Linked DNA regions of Homo sapiens: regions 2 and 3 are each linked to region 1. The links come from fine-mapping of genetic effects on gene expression. A gene starts in region 1. Each other region holds a variant in brackets. All regions are shown on one strand. Distances are from middle to middle.

Region 1 (8,189 bases):
TTCTCTCTTTGGTTTAAGGCTAGCATAGTGTAGTAGAAGCTAATACTTGACTAGTAATCAGAAAATGTGTGTCTGAGATGTAGTTCTGTCACCGGCTCCAGGATTTTGGACTAGTATTTCACTTACTAAACCTCATTTCTTTAGCTATAACTGTAGTGGAAGCTCTTCTAATTTAGGGATGGTAGCTACCTCACAGGCTATCATGAAGATCAAATGAGATTGTAAGAAAGCCATTTGCGATCTTTAGATGCAGACGTTCTACTTTATACCTTTTCTTTATAAAGTATTAATATTGAACATCAGTGCAGTCATCAGTTCATCAGTGTTTACTAGTTCATGGTTTTGCTGCTGGGAATATGTGCTAGAGAAAGTGCTCAGTGTTTGATAGTGGGCAGATTGACCTGTGCATATCCATGTTCTTCCTAAGGATAGTGAAGAGAATGAAAAAATAATAAGCATAGTGGGTGTCTCGGAAATGGAGAAGGAAGCAAAAGCTGATTAGGAAAGTAAAAGGTACCGAAAGCAAATTAGTATGCAAATTTACTCATTCACAAATTTACCCAGGGTTCTCTTTCTCCTCATCAAAACAATTTATTAAATACTAAATAAGATAGATACATTCAATGGTATAGTAGTAAATATTTAACAACCAACTTTCTGGGAAAAAGTTAAACATGATAGCATTTACCGATTTCTGTAAATAGTTCTACCATGGCCAATTTCAAGTCACTAACATGACATCACTGAACAGAGAGGAAGAGATATGCAAGTAGCACATCCTTATATACTGTTTGCCTTGTATGGATATGATAGACACAAATAAACTCAGGAGTATAGATAATAATACACATAATTAGGAAGTGATGAGTTTTAAGTATTTGCTAGTTTTATTTTTAAAATTATTTATCTATTTATTTATTTTTGAGATGGAGTCTGTCGCCCAGGCTGGAGTGCAGTGGCGTGATCTTGGCTTACTGTAAGCTGCGCCTCCCGGGTTCACACCACTCTCCTGCCTCAGCCTCCCGAGTAGCTGGGACTACAGGCACTCGCCACCACGCCTGGCTAATTTTTTAGTAGAGACAGGGTTTCACCGTGTTAGCCAGGATGGTCTTGATCTCCTGACCTCGTGATCCGCCCACCTCAGCCTCCTGAAGTGCTGGGATTACAGGCATGAGCCACCGTGCCCGGCGGAAATAATTCATTTAAATGCAACTCAGTTTGATTTAATTTTGATTAATAGCTGAGTTGAACATCCACTTTGCAAATTCCTGAAAATTTAACAATCAGCTATCATGAGCCAGTGGGGGCACCACCCTGGATATAATGGTAATTGTGTTAGTATGGTACTAGTTATGGTAAAGATTATCACCTCTTCTGGGAAGCCTATCTGTGTTAGGTGCCTTTCTCTATATTCCTACTATAACTTTCTAGATGTCACAGCAAGTACCACACTGTGTTGGGATCTCATTTCTCTGCCTTCACACTTGATTTCCCTAAGGCCAGTGACTGTGACTGACTTTGAACTCTGTATCTTCTCTATCTAGCACTTAAGGCTCAAAAAATGTATATTGAAAACAAATTTACCTGGACCTGGCTCCTGTCCTCAAGGAGCCCACAATGATCATGTCTATGATCTACAAAAACCATAGACACAGAATACACAGTGTAGTAGGAGCTCTGAATAAACATGTGAAAGGATAATAAGGTTTTTATATTACCAACAGTGGCTTTTATTGGGATGGGAAAAAAGTGATTATAGATCATTGGAAGTAGATGTAGCAGTTCTATTGTGATAAAACAAACACATTTTTCCTTATGTCATCTATTTAATGATATTCTTTTAGTGTTCACACCTTTAACAGGTAAAAGCAACACACATTCATTATAAAACAATTAGAGTATACAGAATCATAAAGAAATAAAAGCCACCTATATTTTACAAGATTGATGTATTGATGAGGATAGGTTAAGACAATAGCATCCAGAAAGCACCAAATAACAGTGCCTTACACAAGATCCTTTTTTTCCTTTTCAAGTAAAAGTTTGGAGGTTTGCAGACCCAAGTTGGTGTGGGTTCTGCTCCTCAGTGTCTTTAGAAGCTCAATTTTCCCCAAGTTCATGGCCCAGCTGTTCCTAAGGCGTGGCCCCATTCTTCATGGTCCAGGTCAGAATCCATCCTCTCTGAAGCAGGATGGAGGATGGGATGAAGAAGAGGCACAGGGCTAATTGTCTCTTTAAGAAAGATTCCCAGCACTTGCCCTGTGGCACATCCATGACTTTCCCCTTGTTAGAAGATAGTTAGGAGACCATGTTTTGCTGCAATAGAGCCTAGGAAATACAGTCTTTATTCTCAGCAGTCATGTGCTCAGCTAAAATTTCTATTACCACGGAAGAAGGGAAAAATAGGTAGGATCAACTGTCAGAATTTGTCAGAATTATTTCCTTAAATTGCAAATAGAGGAATTTCTAGGTTAGAAGTTATGCCCATTTTCACGATTCTTGAAGCATATTGATACATTTGCCTTCAGAAGTTCTGTGCATGTTTACACTCCCAATGAGATCTATGAATGCTTTGTACTAAACACCAAGTAATCAAGTCATTCAGTGTTTCTTCTATGGCTTTGCTGTGGGCAGGATGTGATGGAGAAAAGTGTTGTGTTTGAGGGACCAGGGCTTTATTGTCAGGACTTTTTCAGCTGCAGGTGACACATGGCTTATCACGAGTACTGGAATTTATTCAAATATTTAGGATGATTTAGTATTAAGGTTGGTGCAAAAGTAAGCGTGGTGTTTGCTATTGAAGGTAATGGAATAGAAAACTAGGAATCTGAAGGTGGATAATTAAAAAATGAAGTTCTGAAGAGGAATGGGAGAGGAGGATTATATGGGTAGTTGTAAAAATTTTGAGACCTACAGAGAGAGGATGAAATGTAATATAATGCCCTCCTAATGTCAGTGAAGGGGCTTTTACACATATGTTTTTATCAATGGCTACATTCCAGGCAATACCCTAGGTGCTTTATATATATCCTTTCTTGAATTCCCACAGCCATCTGGGTAGGCATATAATTTTTATGTATCCATTTTTTACACACAATGAAGTCAAAGCTCAAGAAAGCTCAAGTTAGGGTAGAGCTAGAATTTAAACCCCACTCTGTCCGATTTCAAAGTTTTCCTCTTTCCGCTCTTACTCTTAAGTGTGAACTGATAAAAACAATTTTGGCAAGGAATTCACCTTTTCTATAGCACTTGAATTAACTGAAGGATATAAAAGACATTATGAAATCTTAAAAAATTATGAAAGAATTACAGAGAGTAACAAATGAAGTACTGTAAAGGCAAGGAAGAACCTCATGAGATTTTGTCTTTTCCAGGGGCCCTTCTCTGACCTGGGTTGGCTGCCTGCCCCTCCTTTCTCATAGTACTCTGTGTTCACCCTAAGACAGTTCTCATCTTTATTGTGATTGTCTATTTCCTTGGTCGTCTCTACTGCCAGATTATATCTTGAGTGTTAGATATTAGATTTCACACATCTTTATATTACCAGGAGCCAGCACAATGTCTGGAACAGTGTAGGTGCTCAATAAATATTTGCCAGATAAATTATACAGGCATTTATTCTATGGTCATATTTATACATATTACTGAAAGAGATTTTTAAAATCAACTTACTATATGATGCCAAATTTTTAAAGACATACAATAATAACTAGACTAATATAAAATTATGATTCTGACTATGGTTATAACAGAATGTTTATAAGACAACTGAACCTGTGACTAAGACTGAGTGCCTACAACGTGACAGGGTGTTCTGAGTGTTTAACATTTTATTATTAATTTTTCACAAAAATCTTATGAGGGAAACAATAAAATTATTATTCTTACTTAGAAAATGGAAAAACCAGGATATGAACTTAGGCAGTACTGTTGTAGAATTTTTGTGTTTAACAACTAGGCTATTTTATATCGCCATTGTTTATTAGCTGTTTATGACAAAAACAGTTTTTTTGCATGACTCCATAGTGGTATTTTTTTTTCTTTTACAAAGCACAGTTTAATTATCAAAATCAAGTACTTACTGTTTATACAAGACTATTCTCTAATCTACAGCAGTTAGTCAAATTTGTGGAATTAGTCCACTAATGTCATAGTAGCATCTTCTAATGAAAGCTCATAGATCCTTTTCCTGTTGCTTTGCTTGTCGACCGGAACTTCCTTTCCAACAAAGGAACAGGCTCCAAGAGCAACCCTCAGTATCTTGGGAAATTGCTGCTTTTATACCTGAGCAACCTCCAAACCGAAGAGTAATTTGCTATCATCATTCTTCCTTACTGCCCTTCATAACCAGGGTCTCATATTTTTTATTTTTTCTTCTAAAAAAAAAAACAAACCCAAAAAACAACCGTTCAATTGCACCTCCCAGGTGCACTCCCAGGCTTGCCAGGGGCTTTCCAGTCGCAGACCCCGCGTGTTCGCAGACTCTGCCGCCGGCGAAACTACATTTCCCAGCGGGCCGCGCGCCCTCCTTCCGGCAGGTACCCCTCAAAACCCGGAAACGCCTTGCGGGGCAGTGTGGGAGGGAGAAGTCCAGGGCGGACAGGCTGGGCGCACCCGTGCTCGCGCACCCCAAGATGGCTGAGAGGCAGGAAGAGCAGAGAGGGAGCCCGCCCTTGAGGGCGGAAGGCAAGGCCGACGCGGAGGTTAAGCTCATTCTGTACCATTGGACGCATTCCTTCAGCTCTCAAAAGGTACAACAGGCCTTGGCGGCGGAGGGTGGCGCGGATCGGGCTTCAGCACTGGGACAGCTCCTTCTGAGTCCCGCCCAGGGAAGCCGGTCCACCTAGAAATCCGCCTCCAGTGTCCTGACCCCGGGCAGGCGCTCCCTCCAGGCGGGGACGCGCCCGGGTGGGGAGCGGGGAGAATCGATCGGAGATGATCCTATGTGGCTATGGCCCAGGCTCCGCCTCTCGCGAAATGCGACAAAAAAGCATCATTTTCAGTATTTGGTCTGGAGGCCTTGCCTGCTGGTCTTCGGAGAGAGGCAGAGGGAGGTGCCTTTGTGGACCCTCATAATCTGCGATCTCTTCTTTTGCTCTCTCGCATTCACTGTCTTCAGCAAGAGCTGATGTACCTACATGTCAGGTTCTTGTCTGGGGAGGACCCATAATCAGGTTTAGGACACCGAGAAAGTGGTAGTGATGAGGAGGGTGACTGTTTAATGAATACAGTCAGAATCATTTCATTACTTATTTTGTGTTCTTCTCTTAATTTGTTGAGTATTGTTCTTTCCTTACTTGTTAATTCCAGGAATAGGAATTGTTAAAACGACTGTTGAAAATGTCGGTAACACAGGGAAGCCCAGAAAGGCTGCTTAGCGGTGTCCAGGGAAGTCATTTAATTGAAAGCTTACATGTGTTGTAGTAACCAGTGTGAACTCTTCCAGGTGCGCTTGGTAATTGCTGAAAAGGCATTGAAGTGCGAGGAACATGATGTAAGTCTGCCCTTGAGTGAGCACAATGAGCCTTGGTTTATGCGTTTGAACTCAACTGGAGAAGTGCCTGTCCTTATCCACGGGGAAAACATAATTTGTGAGGCCACTCAGATCATTGATTATCTTGAACAGACTTTCCTGGATGGTAATGTTAAGGCTACTTGCGATTTCTTGGATTTACTTTCAACACAACTATGTGTTCCCTTTCTCTTTTTCTCTCTCTCCTCTCTCTCTTTCTCTTGTGTCATGATGGTGGTTTGGGATTAAAAACCTTTTCCATTTCCATAAGCACACAAATATCAAATAGGTCAATAACAAATTTTGTATAGGCTAGTGTAATGCTATTTAAAATAATTTAATGCAAAATACAAATGTTAATGTTGAAACTTAAAAAAATTCACTTGCAAAAAACTGCAAATGTGTGGTTTGTGTTGGTGATTTCTTAGTCTTAAATTCATAATATTCTAAATGTGCACTGTGACGATTTCATCTAATATACCAAATGGTTTCACCTTAAAAACAAGAGGGAAAAAAGAGCAATAAATCTTAAAGGAGAATAGAATGTTAGTATACCTGAGTTCTTTGCCCCAGTCACTTCTGAATTGTTTGAATTTTATATCTTTACTAAGGAATTATAGGGCTTAAATTTGTATAGTGCATTTAGGTAAATCATTTATTAACAGCTTGTTATGTGTCAGACATTTTATAATTTCTTCAATAATGTCTTCAAAAGTATCTGTCTGAGACAGGCATGGTAGACAAGTTATTCCCATTATGTAAATGAGGAGAAAGCAACAGGGTTGCCCAAAGTAATATAGCTATTGTATGGCAGAGTCTTTGGTCTCCAAAGCCTTCATACTACACTGACTGTCTCCCATAATCCTTGCCACTTACACATTGTCTTGCTTGTTCCTAATAATAATCCTTTGAAGTGAACTGTAGCTTCAAAGAGTTACCAAAGACTACACAGCTGATCACAATGGACATTGATGAGAGCAGAACATGGTGCTCAGAGCTTCCAGCTGAATGCTCTTCTAAAAAGGCTGTATGAGATTGTTACTTTTCATCTGCCACCAGTTATGTTGATGTTAATAGGGTAGGTGAAAGCAGAACCTAGCCCCAAACTACAGGAAGCTGACAAAGGAAATTACTAGGACAAAAAAAAGTCTCATGTACTTAGAAGGAAAATGAGTATTATTAGGCCTAGATGGTGGGCAGTGGCGAGGGGGAAGCCCAGGGAATTAGATTAGCAATGGGCTACCCCTGTTCTTAATCTAAGTGCTAGTCCCCTAGGATTGTGATTGGCGGTTTTAATTAAAGGTAGCTTTAGCGTAAACCAAAGCATTTAATGATGTACTTTCTTTTCATCTTTATTTGCTATTCCTTATAAATTTATATGCTGGGGACTGTACTGAAAATGACAACTAGTTCATTTAAGAGAATTTTTCTCAATCTTGAGCTTTTTGGAAATGGATAAGTGTGTTAATTTGTATTTCTTGGGGGATGTAATTATAATGGAACAAAACAAAATAATTGTGTTAATAAATCTATTTTAAATGATCAAAAACTTTAAAAAGGTATTCTAAATGGAAAATCCCATTTAAGTTTTTTGGTAGCATTGCCTGAACTGCTTCTACTATCATCATTCCCCTCCTCCATCCCCTCCTTACACTGTTTTTCCTCTAAGAAATTCAGTGATATAAATTATATTTACAACATAGTAATGTTACCAATTATTAGGTTTTCTTACAATTTTCCTTAGTCTTTCTCTTTTGCTTTTAGTACAGAATAGTAACAAAGCAGAAATAAGTTCTGTGTCCTGCTAAGTTGTATTTAAATAACCAAACAAAGGAAATGCTAAGTTCTTTTGATTACTTAAGAATTAGAAGAGAAGGCACTGTAGGCTGTGACAGGATGGAAATATGGAAAGTGCAGACTTTAATTCTGGTTGAACTATTATTGTAACTCAGCAATCAAGAGTCCTAGCTTTTAGTCTGATGCTGCCACTAACTTGTTGAATATCTTTCAATCAATTGGGAAGGACGAAAAAACGATTAAGGGACCCAAAACTTATGGTAGATAGGACGACAGCAAGAGAACAATAGTTTATATAAATCAAGGCTAAGTTATATAAATCGAGGTCAAGAAGAAGTTTATCTCAGAGTACTGAAATTTTAAAAACAGCGTTATCACAATTATAATTAAGATGCTTTATCTTTAAGAACTCATGGAGAATGAAAGTCAGACAAGATAGACAAACATCCTATTGTCAAAGACGGGGAAAAGTGAATTCTACCAACCCTTGCTACTAATTGTATGTTCCATTCATCAGCAGCATTGGTGTCACCTGGGAGCTTGTTAGAACTGCAGAACCTTAGAGCTCTCTGCAGACCTATCAAATTAGAATCTTTGTTTTAACAAGAGCCCCATGTGATTCGTATGTACATTAAAGTTTGAGAATACTGCTATAAATTAGTGTTTAGTTAAGTAAGCACTGGTGTAAATTACTGTCTTTAAATCTGGTGGAAATTTAGAATAGATTGTGAATAGTTATTTAAATATGTTAAAATTTTTGTGTATCTCAGTGAAAGGAACCAATTTAAGTTTTACACTGCTGGAGAATGTCCCTAACACTTCTAAAAAACTGTCTATTATGTGCCAGGCATGGTTCTAGATATAGTATATCTTGATTTAA
Region 2 (8,189 bases), 53 kb before region 1:
AATAATTTACTCTTTTCCAGAATTTGGGTAGGAACCTGTACAGCTATCTTTCTCAGAGACCTGAGAGCCAATGAACTTCTACTACTAATCTAGTAACTGAAAAAATATATATTATGACCTGTATTTCACAAAAGCCTTGGATAATGCCTCAAAGACACTATTATATCCTTGGATAGGCCCAGTGTGGCAGCAGGAAAACAAATTCACCAAAAATCTCTTGATGTGACCCCATAAGAGTAAGAGCTCCACCTGCACAGAGTTTACTAGCGTTGGGCACCGTTCCAAACACTTAACACACACCAATTCATTAAGCACTCATTCTAACCCTGTGAGGAGGTGCCACTAACTATCATGCCCATTTTACAGATGGGGAAACTAAGGCTTGGAGAGGTGAAACCGGTTGCTCAAGGCCACTTAAAGTGACAGAACCAAGATCTCAAGTTGCACAGCTGAACGAACCACTACCCCATCATGCAGAAATATTTCAAAATAATTCCCTAAATTTCTCTGAGTAAAAACCAGGCTGTCATGTTAAAGATTTTATAGGCATGCTTTGCCTTTTCTGCCTTCTGTAATACTTGGTGATGCAGCTCACATTCACTTCTTTGATTTCTGGCAACCATAACTGAATTAGAGTTGACTTACCACTTCTCCTTCCAGGACCAGACTGACCATAAAGAGGGGAGGGCACTTTATCAGAGCTGAAACTATGAGACTATGCCAGGCTTGGACCACTGCCTGTGAGATATTTCTGGCAAAAATAGGATAGTCTGGACCCAACTTTTGGAAGACAAAGACACCGGGGGCCAATTGACACCAACCTCCCACTCAAGAGCCAGCAGCCCCTAGGTTGGGCATGGGGTGTCTCTTTTGTAGAGCGCAGACCAGGGTCCCCCTTCACTGCAGGAAAGGGCTGCCTTCATCTCAGCCCCGACTTCCAAAACACAATGCAGGCGTCACTCTGGTCTGTCCTTGGGGGCTGGTGGTGGGGGAAAATCCTGCACACCTGAGGGAACTCCTCTGAATGTGGGAGGCAGGAGCATGAATGGCCACAAGGGCAATTATGTGAATGTGCTCTACAGCTAGGGCCTGGGGACTTCTCTGTAGCCTGATTTCTTCTCATTGAAGATAAAGTTCCCCACGTGCCACCTGCCCTCAGCTCCTGCTCTTTCTGCACTTCTCTCAAGCAGCTGAGTAATAAAACTGATAAATCAAACCTACCTTATTCACCTCTCGAGCTTCATTTCTAAGTGAAGCATTTGAACACTGTCCAGGTAGACCAGAGACAAGCCAAGACAAAGTCGGCCACGGTGAGGAAACAGGGCCAAAAGCAGGCCCGGATGTCCCTGTCCTGATTCACGTACTACCAAGACAAAGCAAGTCAAAATGAGCACTAGGCACAAATTCTACAACAATCTCTCTTCTCACAAGAATTCTTCCTCTTCCTCAGAACAAATTTCTTTTTTGGTGATGCTCCCACACATTGTCTGAACCTCCACGTAGCTATTATTTAACTTCAAGCTGCATTGCTAGTTGTTTACATATTCATCTGTCTCTTGGTTATAAATTTCCTGAAGGATAGAGTCCGTATCTTTTTCATTTTGGTTTCTCCCAAGGCACCAAAATGTGTACTTGCTTTACACAGAGCAGGCATTTGGAAAATGCTGGTTCAAATGATCACAACATTTACTCTAACATGAAATATTTAGTGTCCACTTTCTACTTTAAATTTATTGACTCTTTAAATTTTCACAATGGTCCTCTGAGTAGCTATTGCTGTTCTTTTCCCATTTTGCTGATGAGGGAGCCTGAGACGTGGAACAGTTAGGCCATCTGCCCAACTCACAGCATTGGCAGGGCCAGGGTCTAAACGACTGTCTGGTGGCACAGAGTGTGTGCTTTACCACTAACCACACATGCTGCTTCTCTGTGCCCTGGACCTACATAAGTTTGAATGACAATAGCACTTTAGCAGGGAAGAAACAAATGAGAGCTCCTAATCCTCCATGCTTTTGCCCTTGCAGGTCCCTCTGCTTGGAAAGCTTTTCTCCCCTTTCTATTTCTAGAAACTCCTACTGGTTTCCTTCAGGCCCTGCTCAAGACTCAAGTCTCTAGAAGGTCTCTTGGTTCCTCTAAGTGATTAGGGACCCTCTGCTGGGCTCATGTATACATTGATGATATAGTCACCCATGTGACTATATGTGTGTGTGTGTATATAGTTCTATATGTGTGTACATATAGTTCTTTGCTATATCACAGCTCTCATCACCTCATATATTATACGCTGGCTTTCTCAATTTCTCAGCCCAGAACACTCTGAGGACGAACACTGTCTTTTCACAATACTTGGCATGAAAATATTTAACAATTGTTGGCTGTAACAGTTTATTTAGCACCTACTAAGTGCTACTCACTGTGCCAAGGGCACTCACATATACTTGATCTCATTTAATTCTCCTAAACTCCTGTGAGCTGAGTACCAAATCATCCCATTTTCTGGGTAAGAAATCTAAGGCTTAACAGATCTCATAGACAACACTTGAATAAAATCTCCCCCCTCAGCTCAGTTTAATAAGGTCCCAGAGTCTTTCTGGCATTCTTGGCCCTAAACAGAGGGCAGGGCTAGTATCCTGAGGAAAAGCAGGATATTCTCTTGCAGCTTGCCTGCAGATGGGTCTCTCGGGTTCTTGCTCCTAGGCCTTGATCTGAAACCTGTTCAAGGAGTGGGTACAGTCCCCAGGTCATGAGTCAAGAAAACCTCCAAAACTGCAACTCATTGGTTTTAGCTCAAACCACTCAGGCGTTGCGTGTGTGTTTTACCCGAGTCCTGTGAAATCACTATCACTAACCACAAAGGACTTTCAGTTACGAATAATCACCATTTCCACGAAAGGGAACAACCTGGTATGTAGCAATCTCAGTAAGGACACACACACACACACACACACACACGGAGTATTGGGCTAATAGATGAACTATCAGAAACCCGATTAAATCTTAGCCTAATACTGCCTATTCTAAATCTCCAAGGAAGAATATTAACTCAAAGGAGATAAATCAAAACCAAGTATTTGGAGTGCCTATAATGTCTTGGTAACTGTGCTGGGTCCCGTGCAAGGTATAGAAAACAGAGTTATTTTTATTAGCTATATAGTATATACTAATAAGCATAAAGTAAGCCACTGACATCTAAAAATGACCTATTCATAATTATCGCTTTCTTTCCCAGAGTGGTATAAGCAAACATTTTATTCTGGGTACAAACCCAAAGTTAGTTCTCATTAAAAATGATCCTAACTTGCTTTAGATTTATGCTTAACTATTGGGAAAAATATTTTATAGCAACTCTATCTGGCTTTAAAGTTCACTAGTTCAGTATTTATTCAGGCTTCTAAAAGTTATTTAGAATTTAAGTGAGCAGAATATCATATTAATCATAGTGATGCAATGAATGGGGAAAGGAGGAACAGAAAACTCAAAGGAAAAAAGTTCTTCAAAATGTCATGAGAAAATCCAGTTATGCAAAGCCTATTTTAAATTCTTAAAGGTCTTTATAGCTGCTTGATTCAGGGCCTGCAAATATATCAGCTTGCCTAAAAATTTCATTTTTTTCTACCAAGAAATCCCTCTTCCCTTTCTCAACTTAAGATATAATTGACAAATAAATATTGTATATATTTATAGCGTATAACGTGATGCTTTGATATATGGATACACTGCAGAATTATTAAATCAAGCTAATAAATATATCCAAGAAATCCCTTCTTAACCTCCATGGCTTGAAAACTTAAAACTTTTACATCTCTGGCTAACTCGAAGTCCACGTATAGACAGAAAGTATAAGGCATAAGCCAATGCAAGCTATGATTTTGCAGGAGAAATTGATACCTGAAGAGTTCAGGACATAAACAATTTTATATTTTGACTCATTTGTTCATCATTTAGTAAAAATATTTTTATCTTTACATATTTTCATGTTTGATGAACAGTAAAAAAAACTGCTGGTGGACTACAGCAGAACATTCATATAACTAGTATTTTCTTAACAGAAAAATCAGACTGCCCAACAGAGACTCTTGTACTTCATCAAACACACCCAACACCTGGCTGTTTCTTTGCAGGAGCAGGGTTGATCAGACTCCGACGGGCAAGGAGTCCTCTCAAGCAGGGACTTGCCATCACCAAAGATTTGCAGCTGGACTGCACTCCCGACCAGCTTTGGAGACTATGTAGATTCTCTATTACAAACCAGAGAGGGACGTCAAACAGAGTAAACATGTGACAAGTTCCAGCAGGGACCAAGGAACATAAAGATACAGATGGTACCACAGAACATAACACAAAACAGACCCTCAGCTCCCCTTGCTCTTGTTCTCAAGCTGCATCCAAGTGTGCTTCGCGGGACTCTTAACTCACTCACTGTTCTTTGCCCTACCGACTCCATGCAGTTAAAATGCCTAGTAATGTCCTCCCAGAGGTACAGCCCCAGACCACTGCATTTGGGGCCTGAAATTAGTCATTGCAAAGTTTTCACACTGCTTAACTGGTAAGACAAATATCTTCATGTCAGCCATGTGCTCATTCTTTTGCTCCATTTTGCACACAACTAATAAAAACTGGAAAATGCCTTTTCTAAGGCAAAGAAAGTTATAGATGTGAATTTCATTCTTTTATATAAACGTAGTCAGAGTCAACATGAAGAGTTAAAGCTTTGATAGTGTGTGGCTATCTAGATAGTGTGATGACTACTCTTATTACCCCTTAAATAAAAAGTACTTGCTAATTTGATTTTAGATGATGAAATTATATAGAGAAATTACATTTATAACAACAATTGAACCTTGTCTAGCATTTTGTCTTAATAGTAGCACAAAAATAATTCTCTGCTTCTTTCCA[C/A]ACACAGGTCATCATCTCTGCCTCTTCTTTAGAGATTTCTCTATTCCAGCCCCCTCTACTCACTTTCCTAATAATTGCTGTTATAAATGCCAGTGCCAATCTCCAATTTTGATGTATTCATATCCTCGGGAAGCTGCTAAGTGCTCAAGGCTTCAAAGTACTGTTCTTACTTGAAACTCATGTTATCTTTTTATCTATCACCTTGAATGTCCACACATCAGATTCACTATCTTTCTCCCCATAATGTCTCCATCAGCCTTTATGGTGCCACTTATGCTCTTAGCTAATTGTACTCACATCCTTAGAACGTTAACTCCCTTGTATACAGCTGGTTGTTGTATACAAGATGGGTTTTCCTTTACAAATTTCAAGGGTGCAGTTCTTTATTGCCTAGATGCATTTATTCATGTCCTTTATGATCTCATCCCCAACTTCTGCTGCTTGCAATCTACCTTGAGCACTGTAGCTAAAATCACTCTCCTCACATGTTGTTTTGCTCCTGTTAATAACTTCCTCGGCACTCTGAAACGGTTTCCACTTGTGTGTTGCATAATACCCTGGTTAGTGCTTTTCAGATCCTTTAATAGTCAGGCACCCCTTATCTAATTGTCCTCTTCTCTTGCCATGACTCAGCTGTACTCGACGGCACTGCAACGCAAAATCCAGGTGGGTTTGTTGTAAGACTTTTCAAAAGAGGATGAAGCTACAGGGTACAAATCTGACAGTAGGGCTGTAGCTAATATCTCCACCACTTTCCTAACTTTCCTACAACAGCATTCATTTTCAGAAATATGAGTAGTCATACCACTGCTGTTCTCCACAAATTTATTACCTTTCTGGATGTTTTTCCTGGTGGTAGAATGAAGGCACGAGAGACCTGTGTGCATATGAAAGATCCTTGTTTTCAGGTTCTACTACTGGCAATGGGAGCCATTACGAAACATCAACCCAGAATATCAGGAGAAGATTAAACAGGCTATGAAGCTAAAATTAAGACCTATTACAAAAAGCCACGAAGACGACACTGCCCACAAATAATGAACACTGGTGACCTTTACTGCCTTTGAGGGGGTTTTTTTCTCCTCGGGCTGTACATCATTAGATGGGGTCTTCTCCCACCTGGTAAAATTTCGATCCACTGTGAACAAATCTTCCCTTAGCTTCCCTTTAAAATGTTGCCGAAGGACCAACTTCTTTACGAAGTCATTCCAGAGCAACTCTTCCTGGCACCAGACACACTAATCATACCGGGACCTTCTTTATTCACCTCGTCTTTCTAATATTTCTCCCTTTTTCTCATTATTCAGTATTTCTTTAGGGTGTTAAGTGTAGCCTAAAGCTGCCTCCTTACATATTTTACATTCAGCCTAAAGGTTTCTCTGCACACCACGAACTATAACCTAAATGGAGTTGTATACAGATTGTAGCTTACTCTTGTGTCAATCACTGAGTTTTGGGCCAATCAAAGGGGGTCAACGATTCGAGCCGTGTTCAAATAAGGCAAATGACGAGCTGTAGCCAATCAGCTGTTTCTGTACCTCACTTTCCTTCTTCTGTCTATAACCCTTCTTCAACTACACAGCTGCACTGGAATCTCTGTACCCACTCTGGCTCGGGTGGCTGCCTGATGTGCGAATTGTTCTTTGCTCAATTAAACTCTGTTAAATTTGGCTAAAGTTTTTCTTTTAACCACAGCCACATATGCATATTTACATAGACACTGTTTATGGGGAGCGGGGTGCCTGTCTGAGGCTTGTTTTGTTTTTTCCCTTTGTTGGTGTATGCCTTCTATTTCCCTTGAAGTATCTTTAACATGTTGTCATTGGGTGCTGAATACAGTGGCACATCTTTAACTGTTACAAATATAGCAACTGTAATTTAAAGAAAACTTTTAAACAATAAAGTTTTGTAGCTGAACTTTTAACACCACAAAAGTGATTCATTACTAAAAAGTTTAAAGAAAAAAAGAAAAGAAAACCTTCAATATGTTCTTCTCGCCCTCGTTTTCACTTACGGAATTAAACAGTAGTGACTACTTACTCTAGAATCACATTTTCATAGTTCCAACAATGGGCTGAAAGTTACTCTGATCTAGCGAAGAGTTAGAATAATTTTTCAAAATGCTTTTACTGTCAAATTCACACAGTACCATGAAAAACAACAAAAACAAAATATCACTAGGCTATAGGCCAAGTAAAAGTCTTTGGAACTGCTTTATAAACAAGTCAATCCACTCCTTTGTTAATTCCTAGAAGACTAGCCATTTTGACGTTTATATAAACTATGAAACCTTCATGGAATGTGGCAGAGCACTAATAAACAAATACGGGACTGACTGAATTGCTTCGTGTTATTTTTTTAACTACCTCCCATGTACATGCATTTTCTCTAATTGACTCTAAGCTTGTGTGTGCGTTGTGGGGGGCGGAGGGGGTCAGGCCCACGCTTTTTCCTCCATTCACATCTAGCACAGTACTAAGTGTGTAAGTATTGATAATACTTCTGATATAAACAAGAATAACTGGTAAGTGAGTTGTGTGCGTGGAATGTTTACTGCTACTTCAAAATGGTTTTAATTTTGGTTAGAGGGTCCTAACTATAATCTTGTTCCGAAGTATACAGGATGACATTTTCCCTTTTATACCATCTTCTGATTGAGGAAAAATCTGGAGTTGGAAAAGTAAAATGTCAATGTTGTCTCACTACATTTACTAACTGAATAATTTCTATAAGAAGCATTGGTATTGTTATGTGAAGTCAGGTTCAAAAACAGGCGAAAGGAGAGGAATTCACAAAAGAGTAGAGATCCAAACTCAGGTTTTCTGTGACAATCTGGTCAAGTTTTCCACTTCCTCACCCGTTTCATTGATAAGAAAGAGAGACCCAGAAAGATTACTTGTTTCATATGTACTTGTTTCATATGAATGATGGAGCCTTACTGGCCCCCCGCCCCATTTCCCCAACCAGCCGTATACCGGGAATGAATCACTACATTTTCTAATTGAATAATTTATCACCCATATACTGGGAATGAATGAACCTTTTTCATTAACCTTAATAGGGGTATTAGAGTATCATCCACACAACATCTCAGACTTGCCTCTGTTCCTAACCCACTACTTGCAGTCCATCAAGTCCTGCTAATTTTATCCCTTTTGTCTCTGCCACCCTGCCCTCAACCAGGGTCTTTTATCACCTCCTCCACAGACCAGGCCTCCGGTCCTGGCCCCACTTAAATTCTTTCTCCATGAAGCAGGCAGACCATCCATTCAAAGGCAGATGGCTCCCTTCTC
Region 3 (8,189 bases), 110 kb after region 1:
AATTGCTTGGAATATTGCTACTTAGATATAGAATCCTTTATGAGGGACACTTATTCAACAACAAAATTAAGGGCCAGAGTATTTTGAATTTTGAACTAAAATTCAGCCATGCAACCTTGGATACTTCCAGTTTCCCTTTAAAATTATTTCCTCCTGTTTCTATGGAGAGAAGGAAAAAATGATTTCAGAATGTTATCAGATTGTTTCAAACTATTTATCACATTAAACAATTTGTTCAGGCGGAATAAACATTGATTTCAACAGATGTAAAGGAAGTAGTTATAATATTCTGCTTGTTCAACATGTTAAACATCTATTTTTTTAAACGAAGAACATTTAAAGAATTTCATAGAGATTTTTATTTTGTCCCTTTTTCCAAAGAAGACTTAGAGAAAATTTCAGCTACTTGGCAATTGACAAAAATGTTTAGAGAATGACCACAATCACCCAGATTCACTTTGAGTAGTGTTTAAGCTACAAGACACTATGACTCAGTGATCAGAGGCAAATCTCTTAAACTGTTAGTCTCTTCATATTTATTTTTCCAAACATGTAATTATGATTACCATGATATTATCAGTAAAGTCCATCATAGTCCTTGGAAGTAGTGTACTACTTATATGACTTATGATAATTCTTTCTTCAAATGATAACATCCATTTGTAGTTTTTAAGAATAACTGTTCACCGTCCCTAAATGAGTTGCTATCATTACCCCTAAAACATAGAGTTGAAGTCATCCCTACAGTTTTGAGGGGATATAATAAATACAATATTGACATGGTGTGCTCCTATTCTTAAAGAATTTTATTAACTCATTGCAAACTTTATTGAGATGGTGAATTCAAATGAATACCTATACTTTAGCAGTTTAATCCCCAATGAAGATTATTTTATAACATGGAAATATTAAATATTAATATATATAAATTAATATAACAAGGAAATATTAATTTTCTTTAAGCTATGAGTAAATGACCATGACCAGATTGTCCCAAGACACCACTCATTCTAAGTTTGTGAGGTCATTATAAAGGACACATGTGAAATGAAGACAATGTTTACAGTTGTTGGCCCATGGCCCACTTACATGGATACACTTCTTCAGTAGTGTAGAATGAATGTCCTGGTTTGATCTGCCCATGCTGGGTTAAACAGGGTCCAAATGAGGAAGCAGTGCAAGGTCCATCCACAACTCAAGAATGGTTTTGTATAGCAAATGGAAAGAAGAAGATACTTTGATGAATTGTGTTTGTTTCTTCTTGAGTTTAGTGGGATATTGGAGCATTTCAAGACTAGTTCTCAAGTTGTAAGGATCCATTTCCACAGGGATGATATACCAGGTTAAATAGTGTCACCTCAAAATTCTTATCTACCTGGACCCTGTGAATTTAACCTTATTTGGAGATAGAGTCTTTGCAGATGAATCAATTGTAGTGAGGTCATATTGGATTAGAGCGGCCCCCAGTCCAATATGACTTGTGTCCTTATAAGAAGAGAGAAATTGAGGCACACACACCAGGTGGGGATTTGAGAGGCAGCCACAGAAGATAGAAAAGAGGCCAGCAGCACGCTCTTCACTGAGCCTCCAGACACCCTGCTGATATTTCAATTTCAGATTTTTGGCCTCCAGACTATGGGAGAAAAAATTTTGGTGGTTTTAACTCACCCTGTTTCTGGTAATTAGTTTGCGCAGCCCTTGGAAACTATACAGGTGATAACTGGGTCTGATAGTGAATTGGTTCACTAATGGGGCAAGAAAATATTCATAAAAATGGAGGGGTACAATCAGACCCTGGTGTGCTGTGCCAACACTTGGTGGGTGGAAGCCCAAAAGAGGTAAGAAAACAAAAGCAGAGAAGTACCAGAAATAACTCAAACAAGCTCTACTTTTCAAAAAAAGAGAGCTTCATCAGTGTCATATATAATGGAAATAATGAGGAGAATGAGACCTAGAGAAAGGGAGCTGGCAGGATATAGATTATCAGACACTTTTGAGAAAACATTTTAAAAGAGCAGCATCTCTCAATCTTGAGTGTGCATAAGAATGACACACAGACCTTTTTAAAAATGCAAGTCCCAGAGCGACCTCTGTGGATAGTAATTCTATAGATCTAGTGTTTTGTCTGGGATTCTGCATTTTGACAGGCACTCCAGGTGATTCTGAGGCAGAAGCTTCTGGCACTTCAATTTGTGAAACGCTAATGCAATGGTGAAGTCAGGGTGAATCAGGGTTTGTGGAACCAGAAACTAATACTATTTAGGGACTTTAAGCAAAAGAATAGGAATAAAATGAATATTTATTGAGTGAGAAAAGGAATAACAAATTATACATTGAAAAGTACAATTGTCTTCCACTTTAAAGACATTTTGAAGTTTCTGCCAATTTTATTTCTTTTGGTTAACAGGTTTGGCTTCCACTGGGATACTTCTTTAGAATATATTTGATGTTTTATATGAATAATTCTGAAAATGTACAAAATTAATTTGAAATTAAGGCATGCGCAGGAGCTATTCAAATGTACTTAAAATTACAACCACATTATATTCAGCAACATAATTCTGAATAAATTACTCTTATGCCACCACTGGATTACTTCCTAATGCAATATGTGCAGGAGCTTTGTCACTGGAATACTTGTTTCTTCAGGCAATTTATCTGTGTTGGTGGCAATCTGTGGGCAGCATTGAGTACAACATCTAGTCTTTAATAAGGATAAAGTGCATCAGATATCCTGAGATACTATCCAATAATTTGGGATGCATAAAACATGTTAATTCAAGCAGACATATTAGTATTCATTGCACTGCTATAGATGTGTGCCCCACGAATGGGGATTCTGATTAATTTCATTCATTATGATCTCCATTAAAAGGAAGAAATACATAATGTTCCTTAAATTGTATGTGTCATGTTGATCAAGCATTTGTTGATAAAGGAGAAATTTATTTTGACTAAGCATCAATGAGAAGGGAATGTTCCATTTGTAACTTTCTACTGATTAGTTTCTGGCTCTGAACCTTCCAAATCTTGATTCTCCTCCATTTCAACACAATTCTGGTGTCAGTTGCTCTATTACAATACAACTTCTGACCCTGCAACTTCATGTCATGTCGCCAATTTTACTAAAACATATGTCTATGTGAACACATTGCCAGGGCCACTTCCAGGGCCTCAGCTAGTAGACTCCTTTATGGGAGGGCCCCTGAAGCTTAAGCTTCCTTAGCTTAATGGAAAATCTAATACTGAACAGCAGGAACAGAAACTGGCCTGCAGGGAGTAAAGGAGGGCCCAGTGGATAGGCAATGAAGTTCCTGCAGGGGCCTGAGGAGTTAATCCAGGAAGAAATGAGCTATGGAATGGTGGTTATGAAGAGTGGTAGGGTCCTAAGAAAAGGTTCTATTTGTGGAGTTGACCTGTTATGTTTGGGGACATGAATATACAGAGAAAGAGAGAGAGAATGAGAGAGAGGAGGAGAAGGAAGATAAACAGGTGGAGGAGAAAGAGGAGAAGAGAAGACAAAAAGGAAGAGAATTAGAATAGCAGTGTTAAAATGTTCAGTCACAGACCCTGGGCTTTTTGCTTTCTCTTCCCACTTTCTTGGAGTTGGTCTACATTCCTGAAGGCTTTGTCCTTGTATTGGGAGAGGGTATTCTCTATCCTCTTGGGCTTTCCCTACAGAACATCTTCTGCCAGCACTTGGATGTCAGTCTGCATCTGAGGCCACTGCCAATGCTTTGTCCCACTTTGGCCTTTGGGCGTTGCACCCTTACCCTCTTCATTTTTCTGCTCTTAGCCATAAATCTGTCCCACATTTCTCTTGTAAAAACCTCTGAGACAGCAAGGAAAGGATTAGAGGATAGGCACAGGAGCATGCTGAGTTAAAAATGGGGTACATAATAAGCTTAAGCAGATTATCCTAATATAGATACTTTCCCGGGAAAGCAGAACATTAATGCTCTGCTCTCTAAAGCCTATTAAATAAACATACATATTATTTAATGACCCTGATTTTTGCCATTGTAAGTTTTAACACATAAATTCTTTATCAAAATTAATCATGAAAGACTGCATTGTAAATAGATTTTCTTTGGCTATTGAGGAGCTAGGTCTTTTAAGAGATTTTGGAACCTGTTGCCTAAAAATAACAACACAATTCAAAGTGCCCACATTTGGCTGTGTTCATATGCTGCCAAAAAAATTCGGAAGAAAAGTGAAAAGTTCACCCATTCATTTGGATATTTCCAAGTATCCAGATGTTTGGCATCATCCAGACTAAATGTTAGGTGACTAATTGATTGGGTTGCTCATGTTCCACATGTTTGGCATTGTATGGATAGATTCTGATTATGCTCTCAGACAGGGAAGTA[C/T]AATGTGTTTTACATGCTCACATGGGACCCCAAAGCTAATGGTGTCAAATGAATTTTTCCTGTTTGACCCCCATGGGTCAAACTCAGTTCAGTTTCACTTGTATTTTTCATTCCTACAAAAATGCAGGTGCAGCTATTTTATTGCCATTAAATCTCATAAAGCACTGAAAGATTTGAATGAGAAAAACAATTCTGTTCCAGCAGAAAGCATTTCATCCTAAGGAATAAAATTTTCCTCTCTTTATTCCAGCAAATGAACAATAAAAAGTATATGAAATCATAGTATCACTGAGTCTTAGAATAAACATCAAAACTTGAATAATTTTTTTAAAAAGATGGAACTAAGAGATGGAATTTTATAAAAACAAACTTTCAGTTAGATGGTATCTAAACAAACTTTATTATTTTAACACATAAAGATTTAAAAGAGTTAAGAATATGGCTAGGTGATTTTAACTATATATAGTGACTCCTTGAGTTCTGTTTGCCTAGAGTTAATTTTTTGTCAAGTACTTCCTGGCTGGGCTGGGCTACTTATTTTTTATTGATTGTGTGTTCTAAGTGGAGCTATAATAGAAAACTAAGAAAATAGATCAATTTAGGGACCAGAGAGCTACCACAGAAGAGCTATTCGCATTAATTTAAGAGACTTGGGCCTGTGAGCATTTCCTTCAATACATCTAATGACTTAATTCAACAAATATTGTCTGAGCTGTTTTCATTTGAAGAGCCTATTTTCCTTAGTGCCTTGGGACATGTAGAGTTGAACAGGGTAAAAATCGTTCATTCCAGCTGATGGTAAGTTAGAGACTATTGGGCAGAAGCAAGCAATTTTATAAAAATACACTGTAGGGAAGAAATGGTACCTACCAAATAGACATTAATGATCAACTGTCAATACTTCAAGACATTGAGACCTGTAGGAGTTACTAACATATTCTTTAGAAAAATGAATAGAAATTAGGAATAATTTAAGGAACTTAATCCTTCTTGCTTCTGTTTGACACAGAAACCACTAAGAAGAGGGTAAAACAAAAATTGGGAATGAGAATCCTAGAATTTTTTTTATACTTGAATGATTTCAAAAGATATGCCAGCATTTAAACAAGCCTTTAAGAATCTAGTAGATTAGAAAGCATTTGAGTGATGAAGTGACAAGGACGTAAGTTGAAATCAATACAAATACAAAACCTGATGAATTGTTTCATTCAGAAGAGATCAAATTATTAAAAGATCAAGTGCAAAGGGAAAAGTTTATAGATATTAATGTGTTCTGATAAACTAAGAACCAGACAGTACATGAAAGCTTAGCTTTAGGGTGGATGACATTGCAAGTGATATGTAATTAAGGCAATAAGTTACGGCAAATGAGTAAATAACATTTCTAAGATTGATCCTCAGTTGTGGGCTGAAACAAATTGATGTAGCACAGTAAGCATGACTTCAAGAATATTTTAGGATAGGTGTGGTGGCTTATGCCTATAATCCCAGCACTTTGGGAGGCCATGGTAGAAGGATTGCTTGAGCCTAGGAATTTGAGACCAGCCTTAGGAACATAGGGAGACCCCATATGTATTAAAAAAATAAAAAAATAAATTAGCGGGATGTGGTATTGTGCACTTGTGGTCCCAGCTACTCAGAAGGGTGATATATGAGGATTGCTGCTTGAGCCCGGGAGTTCTAGGCTGCGGTGAGCTATGATTACACCACTGCACTCCAGCTTGGGTGACAGAGCGAGACCCTGTCTCAAAAAAAAAAACAAAAATAGTATTTTAACAGAGGTGCTACACAATATGCTGGAATGTGTCCAAAGTGGATCAAAGGATTCTTGCTGCAGGAAAGTGCATTCTGCTATGGAAAGTTTTAATAAAGCAGAGGTTGTTCCTCTGCTTTATTAAACTGTCTAATAAGCACACATCTAATTTAATAGAAATAAGTGTAAGACATATGTAGCTTTGGAGAGAAACTGTCTAATTTAATAGAAATAAGTAAGACATAGGTAGAGAAACTAAACATATGTAGAAATTGGAATATCAACCTTAAAATGGTTACTACCACAATTACAAGAAAGCAATTCAGTAATTGTAATAGTAATCAAAACTTCTGTGTATTGTAGTCATTTATGCAAATAGAGTTGGCTGTATATAAGCACAAATCAATACAAATGACTACATGATGGCGGGATTTATTTAGTAGAGGCCAAATTACTGAAATATCTAGCATAAAGGGAAAAAATCCATAAATACGTATGTACCTGCTATATCAAGAGAAATGCTATGAAACAACTAAAGGAAATGTGGAGGAAATATTTAGTTCTAATATGTTTAACAATACCATCCCAAGAGAGAATAAATGAAGGTGCTGCTGGTGCCTGAGTGGGATTTTAAAGGACAAATCTGGGTTTCCAGAAGGAAAGAGAAAAGACATGGAGACTTTTATCAACAAAACAGGTTTGGGTGAGGCATGCTAGAACCCCAAAGTGTGGAATGATTAGTCAAAGTAGAAAAAACTGGCACTCATAGTTGGCAGACAGTCCAAAATACAGTGCCAATAGGGGAGTGTCAAATTCCGGGTTAATTTAAGCTACTTCAATTCATGGTGACTTGATAAGTTGTAGCATTATAGCAGAGGGATCCAGGCTGCAGTAAAATTCAAAGTCAGTGGGGAACAGGGTCATATTTTAGTGGTTTGCTTGGTTTTCTGTAAGACCCTAAGCAACAGCAATTGAAATAAGAACAATGTGCAACCCTAAGGGAGGAGCAATTGGAAGGGGCTAGGAAGGCTGGCTGGCAAAAGCCCAATGAAGCAAGTTTGTTTTCAAGGAATAGTGTGGAAACTGAAAAACATATGGTTGTCCCTGCGTCCATCTAGACACCCTGAATGCTGGTTTTATAACAGCATACTACATTTTGTGCACACTTCCAGATGGAGCCCCTAATATGCTGTCTTGGCAGGATGCCTTTGAGTTGGGCCTGGATGTGATTGTATATGCTAAGAGTATTGCTAGAGATAAGAATAACTCCGTCAGACAAAGACTGAGGGGGAATGGACAGTCATGCCATATTTAGGGAAAGGGATATTAATTTCATATTCAAACCTAAATACCTGCCTACTGTCATCTTAAATTGTAAGTATCTTCCAAGATACTTACAATTTAAGATATCACCTTTTAAATTTAATTGTAAATAAGTATCTTAAATTTAAAACATCTAAACTTAAGCTGTCGGCCAGGCATGGTGGCTCATGCCTGTAATCCTAGCACTTTGGGAGGCCAAGGCGGGTAGATTGCTTGAGCTCAGGAGTTCGAGACCAGCCTGGGCAACATGGTGAAAGCCCACCTCTACTAAAATACAACAAGTTAGCTGGGCGTGGTAGCGTGCTCCTGTAGTCCCAGTTACTTGGGAGGCTGAGGCAGGAGAATTGCTTAAACCCGGGAGACGGAGGTTGCAGTGAGCTGAGATAGCACCACTTGCACTCCAGCCTGGGTGACAGAGCGAGACTCCTCTCCAAAAATAAATAAATAAAAATAAAAAAAAATAAACCTAAGCCGTGCTATTCTGCCTGAAACTAGTTCCTCCCTATCTTTATTTCAGGTAGGCGCACCCACTTGCTCAAGCCAGAAGTTTAGGAGTCATTCTTGATACACCTGCTTCCCTTACCCCTTTCATGCAATCTCTCGCCAAGCCTTATAAATTTTACCTACAAAGTACTGCTGGTCTCCCTTCCCTTCCACCTCCACTGCCCCACAGAGTTCAAGCCACCAAGTTCTCTGGACTAGATGATAGCCTGATAGGTTCTCCACTTCTCCTTCTCATCTTT

The links.
Region 2: its variant is fine-mapped to the expression of GDAP1 in blood mononuclear cells (TOPMed, PIP above 0.99).
Region 3: its variant is fine-mapped to the expression of GDAP1 in fetal neocortex (Walker 2019, PIP 0.95).

The regions. Positions count from the first base shown.
Region 1 is chr8:74,345,828-74,354,016 of GRCh38, forward strand. GDAP1 (ganglioside induced differentiation associated protein 1) reads left to right here and starts at 4,576. Exons shown (of 6, transcript NM_018972.4): 1 at 4,576-4,751; 2 at 5,447-5,639. The coding sequence starts at 4,635. RefSeq lists an enhancer at 4,589-4,818.
Region 2 is chr8:74,293,094-74,301,282 of GRCh38, forward strand. The region is part of intron 2 of JPH1 (junctophilin 1); the gene reads right to left. Among named protein-coding and RNA genes, the nearest start is that of JPH1, 24 kb to the right of the region's middle. RefSeq lists a silencer at 2,665-2,804 and an enhancer at 7,975-8,189. The variant C/A (reference allele first, on the strand shown) is at 4,897.
Region 3 is chr8:74,457,343-74,465,531 of GRCh38, forward strand. It overlaps a transcript of GDAP1 not described here. Among named protein-coding and RNA genes, the nearest start is that of MIR5681A, 87 kb to the right of the region's middle. The variant C/T (reference allele first, on the strand shown) is at 4,371.